Regions from separate parts of the Homo sapiens genome. Here region 1 is linked to region 2. Evidence: fine-mapped expression QTL. A gene starts in region 2. The other region holds a variant in brackets. All regions are shown on one strand. Distances are between the middles of the regions. Region 1 overlaps SKI (SKI proto-oncogene). Region 2 holds the start of MORN1 (MORN repeat containing 1).

Region 1 (5,359 bases), 110 kb before region 2:
GAGAGGACGCCCGAGAAGACAGGCGGTGGCGGAGATCTTCAGAGAGAGGACGCCCGAGAAGACAGGCGGTGGCGGAGATCTTCAGAGAGAGAGATGCCCGAGAAGACAGGCGGTGGCGGAGATCTTCAGAGAGAGGACGCCCGAGAAGACAGGCGGTGGCGGAGATCTTCAGAGAGAGGACGCCTGAGAAGACAGGCGGTGGCGGAGATCTTCAGAGAGAGGACGCCCGAGAAGACAGGCGGTGGCGGAGATCTTCAGAGAGAGGACGCCTGAGAAGACAGGCGGTGGCGGAGATCTTCAGAGAGAGGACGCCCGAGAAGACAGGCGGTGGCGGAGATCTTCAGAGAGAGGACGCCCGAGAAGACAGGCGGTGGCGGAGATCTTCAGAGAGAGGATGCCCGAGAAGACAGGCGGTGGCGGAGATCTTCAGAGAGAGGACGCCTGAGAAGACAGGCGGTGGTGGAGATCTTCAGAGAGAGGACGCCTGAGAAGACAGGCAGTGGCGGAGATCTTCAGAAAGAAAGCCCAGAGTTCCATAGTGGGCGGGTGGGCAGTATTTCGGCTTGTGTGGCACCAGGGCAGGGCCTCCGAACCCATGGAAAGCCTTGCTTCCCCCAAGCCCGCTGGCTCCCAGCCCTCCACCCTCATGATAGGGCCTGGGTAGGGGCTGCTGGTCACCCTTTACCCCCACCCAGGAAAAGGTCAGGAGGCTGGGCTCCCCGTCAAGGAGCGGTTTCCAGGGACACCGGCTCTCGGGGGCGCCAGTCCTGTCCTTGGCGCCCAGCACATGCTACTAGTGACATTCGCAAGGGTGGGTCTGGTTCTCAGCCTCCGACCTGTCACCCCGGTGTGGGCCCAGTGACCTCAGTGAGCTCCTCCTGTGCCCTAAGCTGAGCCACTGTGTACACTGAAGAGGAGGCTGGGGTCCTGTGTGCACCTGGCCCGCTTCCCTTGCCGGTGCTGGGAGACGGGAGCCAGTCTCGGACCCTCATCTGCCAGCAGCTCCTGTGGCTGTGGGGGCGCAGGCATCTTGGCTGACTAGGGAGGATCCCGTGGGAATGACCCCACGCCATGGCCAGGGAGGCGCCCCCACCCGGCCCAACCGCCTTTGTCGGGGATCCTGAGAGGCTTTGTGCGGAGGCTGGGTCCCAGGCTGGGTTCCGAGGGTGCCGGTGCGCCCCTCCTATGGGTGAGGCTGTCTGCTTACAGTTGAACACTTCTCCCCACTTCTGCGCCAGGCCTCACTCAGTCTCCCCAGCACGGAGCTCTTGTTGCTGGCCCAGGGCCTGTCCAGGTCCTTTGACAGGGCAAGGACTCAGAGCCTCAGGGGGGGGAGGGCAGGGCCTCCTGAGGAGTATGTCTCTGTGAAAATGGGGGTGAGGAGGTGGCAAGCATCGCCTTTTGAGGACAGAGTCTTGGAGAGGTGTTGGCTTTCTAGGGAGGGCCCTGTGATTCTCCTGCAACCATGTGGGCCGGGGCCAGGACCAAAGCCATCGTGCTGTCGCTGTGGATTTGGTGGCCGCTTCCCCTGCTCAGATGTTGTACTGCAGGCCTGGGCCTTGGCTTGGGGTCTCTGTGTCTCCATGTTCAGGACAGGCTTGTGGCTTTGGGTACCACGAGGGGCCATCCAGCCCAGGGGGCTTCAGGGAGCTGCCCCTCAAGTGCATGTGGGGTGCTGGGGTGCAGCCCTGCTGCCCATGGCCCGGAAGTCCAGGCAGCACTGCTCTGGTTCGAAGCTGCCCCAAGGGTACGGGAGGCCCGTCCACTAGAACTGAGGCCTGGCACCATGTTGTGTCGGTTTTCATGGCGAGAAAACATCGTGGGCGTCTGCTGGGGCTGGAGGAGGCGGGAGGCCGAGGCAGCAAAGCTGACCCGCTGGCGGGTGGGGGCCACTGTGGCGTCCCCTTCCTGCAGGAGGCGGGGAGGTGCTTGTTTCCCTCCAGAGCTGCTGTCTGCCCGCAGCTAGTGCCCTGTTAGCAGGTGCAGTGCCCGTGCCATCTTCTCCCCAGACCCAGACCCTCCCCAACTCATGGAGACCCTGTCCTCCGGGCCATCCCCCGTCCATGAATGCCCGGGGCTTGGGGTCCATCTCCTGTCCACATGGACCTCCCCTCTTGGGTGTCACAGCTGCATCAGAGGCCCCAGAGGCCGGCCCTGGGGGGCTCTGGCCCCAACACAGCGTCCTCCCCGTTCCACTGGCCGGGGCTCCCTCAGGTTGCTGCCCTGCCTCTAGATCCCTGATCCCTGGACCCATGCTGCCGAGACGTCCTGGTAGGGTTGAGTTCCCTCCTCTCCCACCCCGAGGCGGCCTGAGAAGAGCCTCTTGGAGGTTCAGGTGACCTGGCCTGGGTCAGCACAGTAGAGGCGGAGCTGCCCTCAGACCTCTTTTGTAACAGTTATCTCATGGAAACCTAAAACCTAATTGGGCAACGGCAGCTCCGTGTGAAGTAGAGATTGTCTGGAAGAGATTTGTCCCTGTTCTGTGGAGCAGGGCAGATGCAGCTGAGGTGCCTGGGGGGGCAGGGACCCTTCCCCAGTGGGCTCACCCCAGTGGTGTGGGGGTGGTAGAATTCAAGCTCACACCGGCCCAGAGGGCCCGCTGTCCGTGTGGACCTCCTGTGACTGCATGGGCCTCTTGCGGCGGCTCCCTCCCGCCCCACACCGGCCTATGAGCCCTCCCTGGCCCCTGGGTGGCTGGGAGGGCTCCAGGCAGGGAAGAGTCAGGGAGGGGTGGATGGCCGGCGTGGCTGTAAGAATGACAGGTGGACACGGGGGCCCACCTTGGCCTGTGCTGGGGGCCCCGGTGGCTGGAGAGTGAGAGTGGGTGCTCTCACTGAGGGTCTGACCCTGCTCCGCAGTGCAGTGTGGAGGTGGTTTTGGTGCCACACACAGCACAGGTGCACCA[T/G]GCGGGCCTTTCTGATGATCAGAATTCATAAGTGGTTTTATTTTGTAAATTAACAGGACAGAAAAGCCTTTTTGTTCTTGCTAAAGTTTTATGATTTCGTGTTTGGGCCACCAGGGTATCTGGAGGCTGGGGGCAGTCGTGGCCAGGGTCAGAGTCTGGGTTGGAGATAGGTGTCATGCGGCAGTTGGTGTGGCCGTGTGGACTTGTCCCCATCTGTCTAGTAAATTTCCATCTGCCCTGACGTCAGCTGCCTTTTTGACATGCATTTGGAAGGTGTTAACAAATGGACTTAGATTCTTCCAGGCCGGTCGCAGTGGCTCACACCTGGAATCCCAGCACTTTGGGAGGCCGAGGCGGCTGGATCACCTGAGGTCAGGAGTTCAAGACCAGCATGGCCAACATGGTGAAACCCAATCTCTACTGAAAATACAAAAAAATTAGCTGAGCGTGGTGGCGGGTGCCTGTAATCCCAGCTACTAGGGAGGCTGAGGCAGGAGAATTGCTTGAACCTGGGAGGCGGAGGTTGCAGTGAGCTGAGATCGTGCCACTGCACTCCAGCCTGGGTGACAAAAGCAAAAGTCTGTCTCAAAAACAAACAATAAACAAACAACTCTTCCTTTGAAAGTTTTGTTTTGTTGTTTTTGTTTTTTTTTTGAGACGGAATCTTGCTCTGTCACCCAGGCTGGAGTGCAGTGGCGTGATCTCAGCTCACTACAACCTCCGCCTCCCGGGTTCAGGCAGTTCTCTGCCTCAGCCTCCCTAGTAGCTGGGATTACAGGTGCCCGCCACCATGCCCAGCCAATTTTTGTATTTGTAGCAGAGATGGGGGTTTTTACCATGTTGGCCAGGATGGTCTCGAACACCTGACCTCACATGATCTGCTCATCTGGACCTCCTAAAGTGCTGGGATTACAGGCGTGAGCCACCGCACCAGCCAGAAGGTTTTTTTTTTTTTTTTTTTTTGAAACGGAGTCTCGCACTGTTGCCCAGGCTGGAGCACAGTGGCACGATCTCGGCTCACTGCAAGCTCTGCCTCCCCGGTTCACGCCATTCTCCTGCCTCAGCCTCCCGAGTAGCTGGGACTACAGGCACGCACTGCCACACCCGGCTAATTTTTGTATTTTTAGTAGAGATGGGGTTTCACCACATTGGCCAGGCTAGTCTTGAACTCCTGACCTCGTCGTCCACCCACCTTGGCCTCCCAAAGTGCTGGGATTACAGGCATGGGCCACCACGCCCAGCCTACTGTTCATCTTTACCTTGTGTAATGCCAGTTTAAGACGCAAATGCAGGTCGGGTGCAGTGGCTCACTCCTGTCATTCCAGTGCTTTGGAAGGACAAGGTGGGCAGATCACTTGAGCCCAGGAGACCAGCCTGGGCAACATGGAGAAACCCCATCTCTACAAAAATACAAAAATTAGCTGGGTGTGGTAGTGTGCCTGTAGGCCCAGCTACTCTAGAGGCTGAGAGGGGAGGATCACTTGAGCAGCCTGGGAGGCAGAGATTGCAGTGAACTATGATGATGCTACCGCACTCAGCCTGGGTGACAGAGTGAGACCTTGTCTCTTTAAAAAATCATAAAATGCAAATGTAAGAGTGTTTAACTTGTGGAATCATCAAAATTGCACAGTTCTTGATTTGAACCCCAAATATAATAATTAAAGTGCGTGTGCATTTTATTCTTACCACATCAGGGCAAACGCTGCCCAAAATGAACCTGGCTGTTGGAGTTCGCTTAACTCACCCATGTGGCCACGCAGCTCTCGCTCTGAGTGAGGACAGACTGCGTGTGGGGGCTGTGGGCGCCTGTCTCCCTCCCTCCCAAGGCTCCGGTCGTGGGCTAGTGGGAGAAAGTGACTGGGTGGGACCAACGCGACCTCCTCCACTGGACGCTCTTTACACGGGCTGGGAATGGCAGTGGGCTTGCATGTGGCGTGTGCCACCTCTGCTCATGCATGCTCTGTGGTCACGGAGAACTTTGCTTATAAAAGAACATCTTATCAAAGGTGAAACTGTTCAGAATGCCAATGATGGGGACAGAGCGTTAAGCCCAGGACATGGCTGCGTGCCCACAAAGCCAGCTCTGGATGGAAAAGTAACGAGTGGAGGGCGTTTTCTTCCCAGACCCGGTGGTCCAGCCGTGAGTGTCCAGCTGCAGGCCCCACAGCAGCCAGCTCTGGGCGAAAATCTAGAGGGCCCCTGCGCACCCTCCCGCCCGGGGTGCCCTGGCCCAGGGTGCACCTGTGCTCTGGACCCTGGGCCGTGCGGGGCTCCAGGGCGCCTGGAGACTGCCATTTTGTGTGGGAAGGTGGAGGCGACTTGGGAATGCGTTTCTTTAGATTTTAAAGATGAGAGAGTGTTGGCCTTGGACAGGAAAAATTCCAATTTGGTGAGAAATGGAAATATCCAATTTTTTTTTTTTTTTTGAGACTGAGTCTGGCTCTGTCGCCCAGG
Region 2 (5,359 bases):
GCCATGATTGCATCACTGCACTCCAGCCTGGGCGACAGAGCAAGACTGTCTCAAAAAAAAAAAAAAAAAAAAAAAAAGAGAGAGAGAGAAGAAAACTAGGCAGAGTGGCTGGGCGCAGTGGCTCATGCCTGTAATCTCAGCACTTTGGGAGGTTGAGGTGGGCAGATCACCTGAGGTCAGGAGTTCGAGACCAGCCAGGCCAACATGGCAAAACTGCATCTCTACTAAAAATACAAAAATTAGCTGGGCGTGGTGGCAGGTGCCTGTAATCCCAGCTACTCATGAGGCTGAGGCAGGAGAATCACTTGAACCTGGGAGCCGGAGGTTGCAGTGAGCCGAGATGGCAGCATTGCACTCCAGCCTGGGCAACAAGAGCAAAACTCTGTCTCCAAAAAAAAAAAAAAAGAAAAAAGAAACAAAACTGGCAGAGAGCAGATACAAAACTGCGTGAGAGGAGTACAGTGGCGGGAACGTCCACACCACCAAAGGTTCACGGCACTTGCCTGGGGTTGGTGGGGGTACAGGTGTTATCGACTTTATACTTGCTTTTTTTGTTCTGTTTTGAGACGGAGTCTCAGTCTGTCACCCAGGCTGGAGTGCAGTGGCACAATCTCAGCTGACTGCAACCTCTGCCTCCTGTGTTCAAGGGATTCTCCTGGCTCAGCCTGCCAAGTAGCTAGGATTACAGGTGTGCCTTACCACAACCAGCTATTATTGTCTTTTTAGTAGGGTCAGGGTTTCAGCATGCTGGTCAGGCTGTTCTGGAACTCCTGACCTCAAGTGATCCGCCCACCTTGGCCTCCCAAAGTACTGGGATTACAGGCGTGAGCCACTGCGCTTGGCTTGACTTTACACTTTCTTTCTTCTATTACTTGGATTTACTACAAGAGTAGGTTCTCTTTATAATAGGAAATAAACCATAAAGCCAGTTTTCAGTCTGGAAAAGACAAATGAACTCAACCTCTAGGGAGAATTTCAAAGTCGCAGCTTCCTTTGCTAAAGGTGGCCCTCCAGGGGGGTCTCCCAGGCCTCTGTTTCCCCTGCCCATCCAGCCTTACCCTGAGCAGCCAGGGAAGCACCAGGGTACAATGGGCTCGAAAGCTACAGGAAATGCCACTTGCCCACCCAACCTCCCGGGGAGAAACTGGTTTCGTCAGCTGTGGGGCAGCAGCTGCAAGAAGAGACCACAGATGCTTCTCACCGTGCTTCCTCCCTGCTTTCCATTCTCCTTCATATCGAAAGAAGGAATTTGGGTATACGTAGACACCATAACCTGAGTATTGAGAAGACACACACAGGTAAGCACAGACACAGAGATGAGGGATGCTCTCCAGTGCTGAAGGAGGGAGTGCAGCTCCCTTGAGGGCCTTCAAGGGGTTGGTACACGTCACCTTCAGCAGACCAGAGGCGACCTGTGGGGCTCATGAGCTCTCCTGTCGACTGTTGGGCCATTCATTTGCTCATTTGTTTATGTGACAAGGATGAGGACCTACTTGGTGCAGAGAAGACAGGCCCAGTAAGAGGAGGGCTGGCTTGAAACAACTGCAGGTCCTTGAGAGACCAGAGGTGCTCGGGAGGTGGTGAGGAGCAGGTTGGGAGCCTTGTTGCAGGAGATGAGTGAGCCAGGGGAAGGCAGAGCGGCAGTGTCAGTGAGGCACACAGGGGAGGAGCAGACTCTCCCATCCCCTGCCGTGGCCCTTCAGTGGCCTCCTATCGCTGGGGAGAAAATCCACACTCATACCCAAGGATGGCCTGGCCGGCTTCATCTCCTCCTAGTTGCTGGGTGTGCCACCCGCCAACTCCTGCAGTTCCAGGAATGGGCAGGGCTCCCTCCCTACCAGCTCCTCAGGCACATTTTGTGGGCAGGGTTTATGGGAAAATGTCGGGGAGGAGGGCAGGGGGTTACTACAGGCTACTGTATCTGTCCCAAATCAGGGTCAGGTTCTACCTGAAGATAGTAGTGTTAGCTCTGAGTTCATTCCAGACCCGTTTATTTGATTCTAGAAACAGTTCCTATCAAAACCTGCTCTTTTTTTTTTTTTTGAGACTGAGTCTTGCTCTGTCGCCCAGGCTGGGGTGCAGCGGCGCGATCTCGGCTCTCTGCAACCTCCGCTTCCTGGGTTCAAGCGATTCTCCTGCCTCAGCCTCCCGAGTAGCTGGAACTACAGGAGGCACCACCCCGGGCCAATTTTTGTATTTTTTAGTAGAGACCGGGTTTCGCCATGTTGGCCACACTGGTCTCGAACTCCTGACCTCAGGTGATCCACCCGCCTCGGCCTCCCAAAGTGCTGGAAGTACAGGCAAAAACTGCTTTTGAAACGCGTCCTAGCGTTTCTGGACAGCACCGGCCAGGAAGTCAGGAGGCTTGGTGCTGCTCCTGCGCCTGCCCTCGCCCCAAGTCCTGGGCTTCGGGATCCCCATGGCAACCCCAGGTCCCGCTGGCTGTGAGGCTGCGGCCGGAACCCGGTCTTCCCGGCTAGGAGCCCGCGGGGGGCGACCCCCTGCAGGGCTTGGCCTGCTGCGGGAGGAGGGCTCGGGGAAGGGTGCGAGCCGAGCCCGAGGCGCACGGCGAGTCCTGTGGGAGTGGGGGACGCGGGGGCGGCCCTGGCTCCGCCGCGGCACCTGGACCTCTACTTTCCGAGGTGAGCATTTGGGGGTCGAGGGCGTAGAGCGATCGCACCCTGAATGGAGCCCAGGGCAGCCAGCGACCTGTCCCGTGGCCCGCAGTCGTTACCGTTCCGGGGCGGCCGCCTAGGCGGGTCCCGACGCGGCCCGCGGGAGCTCGGGGTGCCCTCGCCCGCCGCTGCCATCTTGCCGCCGAGGGTTCTCTTAGCGACCAGCAACGCCCGCTTCCATTGGTCTTTGTCGCAAGGGGGGGTGTGGCCACGGGCCTAGTCCCTGAGCCCGCGCAATCTCTGGAGCGAAGCTAGCCGGGCCCGGAGCCAGAGGACGCAGCTGCGCCTGTGCGCGTTTCCGCCGCTGTCGTCTCTTCCGCCGGGAGGCCCGCCCGCCAACGGCCTGCGCGTCTGCGCCGGAAGCGGAAATGGTTGGAGCCCTTGGCCCCGCCCTCGCGCCATCTTGGGGGCCCTGGAGGCGGCGCCGCGGAGGACGGAGCGGAAGTGCTCGCTGCAGCTTCCCGGAGCCGGAGCGCAGCGCCTGCGGCCGCCCGTGCCCCGCCGTCCTCCTTCCCGCGGCCGTGAGGGAGACCGCGGCTCGGCCGTAGCGGAGCTGCGAGGTGCCAGGAAGGGCTGCGTGGCGCGGGAACGGCCGGGCAGCGCCGCCTCCGCTTCTTCCGGGCTGTCAAGGCCGCGGGCGGGCGGGGCCGCGCTGAGGGCCGGGCGGGGAGGGCCGTCGGGGCCCGGGTGGCCGCGGGGACCGTGTTCCCGACCCGCGGCCCTGAGGGGTACGGGTCGCGCCTCGGGGTCGGGCCCGGGACGGGGTGCTGGGGGGTGCGGCGGAGCCCTGGGGCCTGCGAGGGTCGGGGGAGCGGGAGAGGGGCCGGGCGGGGGCTGCAGCCCTCGAGCCACCCGGGCCGCATCTCGTCCGCATCCCCTGCTTGGCATCTGGGGGAAGCGGGCAGTCGCGGCCCCCACAGCGCTGCGAGTTGGGCTGTATTCCAGAGTAATGTGCCCTGTCCCCATCCTGCGTCCAGGTCAGCGCTTATCTGTAGGATTTAGTGTTAAGCTCTGGGGTGAAGGCGTTACTGACGGGCTGAAGGGAAACTAGTTACATCGGTTTTGATCGTATTCTAAATAGGCAATAAAATCATAAATTCTCCAGGCTGACTTAGTACTGGTCTGTGGCCCCACTGATAAAGGTATCGTTCGTTTCTCTGCCAGGTGTCTCACAGCACAGAGGGCTGCTTTCAGCCTAAGTACCTTCAGTGGGCTTTTGCCCTTTTCCCTTTATGAAGAGTAGAGACTGGCCGCTAGTCCTGGAAGCACTTTATTTTTAGTTGAGTTGACATTTCCCAGGAAGATGCAGTTATCCCCGTAAGTGGATAAAGGGTTCTCAGTAATTCAGACTCTCACATGGCTTCTGCCGTATGCCTGAGGTGACGGCGACGGCGGTAACAGTGTGTCAGAGCCAGGTGGAGATATAAGATGGTCAGGCCCAGAGGAGCGGGGAGCCCAGGCTGGAATGTGGCCTTGGGAAGGAGGAAGAGACGGGGTCTGGGAGGGCATTTCAGAGGACTGAACAACACCAGAGGCGTGAAGCTTGGTGCACGGCAGCCGGGGGCTTTCTTAGTCCCGGAGGAATTGGGGATGGGGACGTGAAGAGAAAGGTGGGAGCCAGACTGTCAATGCTCCCGGACGCCAGGCAGAGGACTTCATCCTTTCCACGTGCAGAGTGATGGACCACAGATGTGGATGAATGTGACGGGCCTGGAACAAGGCACATAGAGAGTCTTACACTTTCTGGCACGTCCTCATGGTCTCTGCTTGGACTGGTTTTATCTCCCTTTCTGTTTTGTTTGTGACCAGGCATAAAGCAGTCACCTTCAACAGGTAATTGATGGGCTGTCTACTATGTAATGGACTTCCAGGTGGCAGGGCCCAGCCCCGAACCAGACAAGGGACCCCTCAAGGAGCTTCATTCTAGCAGGAGAAAATTGAGAAGTAAACCAGAAAGGTATCAGGAAACAGTTGTACACAAAATAAAAATAGGGTGATGTGATGTAAGGGACTGGGGGTCAGTGTGGGCGGTAACGGAGGCCTGTGAAGAGGAGGTGGGCTTCAAACTGAGCAGAGAAGAGGACTGCAGAGGGGGCAGCTGGTGTGAGGGCTGGCCCTGATCCAGGAACAGGGCTGGCACTGCCTTGCCCGGCTCCAAGGGTGCTCCACGGGCTGCCCACTGATTCCTCACGAGAGCCTTGTGGAGAAGGCATGAGAGGTGCTGTTGTCCCATTTCACAGACTGGAACCTGAGGCATCCTGGAATAGCCTGTCCTAGTCACACTGGCAGAGAGTGGTAGAGCCAGGATCTGAAAGCAGGCTGTTGGAGTCCAAAGTTCACGTTCTTGCTCCTGCCGCCCTGCCTCAGGCTATTCCTGGCAATGCGTTCAGTCAGGGTGCAAGCTGTGTTTGGTATACGTGTGTGTTTGGTATACGTGTTGTGTGTGTCAGACAAGCAGGATTGGCTGATGGCGTTTTGAGTAGGTTTTCTACATGTTCAGTTGGAGAGTGAGAAGTTCTGAGCTTTGCCTAGAGAACACCCTTTGGCGGGAGAGCTGGGTATTTTCTCCCTGACATTACTCTCATCACCTCCAGTCCAGTAAAAGTGCTTTAATGGGAAACAGTCTGAGTAAAACGGGGAAACTTACAAGGAGCTATAGGACGAACAATGTGACGGGTGGCTTT

The links. PIP is the estimated chance that this variant, and not a neighbour inherited with it, causes the effect.
Region 1: its variant is fine-mapped to the expression of MORN1 in pituitary (GTEx, PIP 0.96).

Annotation. Positions count from the first base shown.
Region 1 is chr1:2,282,024-2,287,382 of GRCh38, forward strand. The region is part of intron 1 of SKI (SKI proto-oncogene); the gene reads left to right. Among named protein-coding and RNA genes, the nearest start is that of SKI, 56 kb to the left of the region's middle. RefSeq lists enhancers at 1,159-1,828, 2,499-3,167. The variant T/G (reference allele first, on the strand shown) is at 2,906.
Region 2 is chr1:2,388,724-2,394,082 of GRCh38, forward strand. MORN1 (MORN repeat containing 1) reads right to left here and starts at 2,831. Exons shown (of 14, transcript NM_024848.3): 1 at 2,735-2,831; 2 at 1,202-1,273. The coding sequence starts at 2,810. It overlaps RER1 (retention in endoplasmic reticulum sorting receptor 1), which reads left to right and starts at 3,118. Exons shown (of 7, transcript NM_007033.5): 1 at 3,118-3,235. RefSeq lists silencers at 1-77, 2,404-2,533, 2,694-2,763, 2,894-3,003, 3,104-3,403 and enhancers at 2,827-3,121, 2,990-3,862.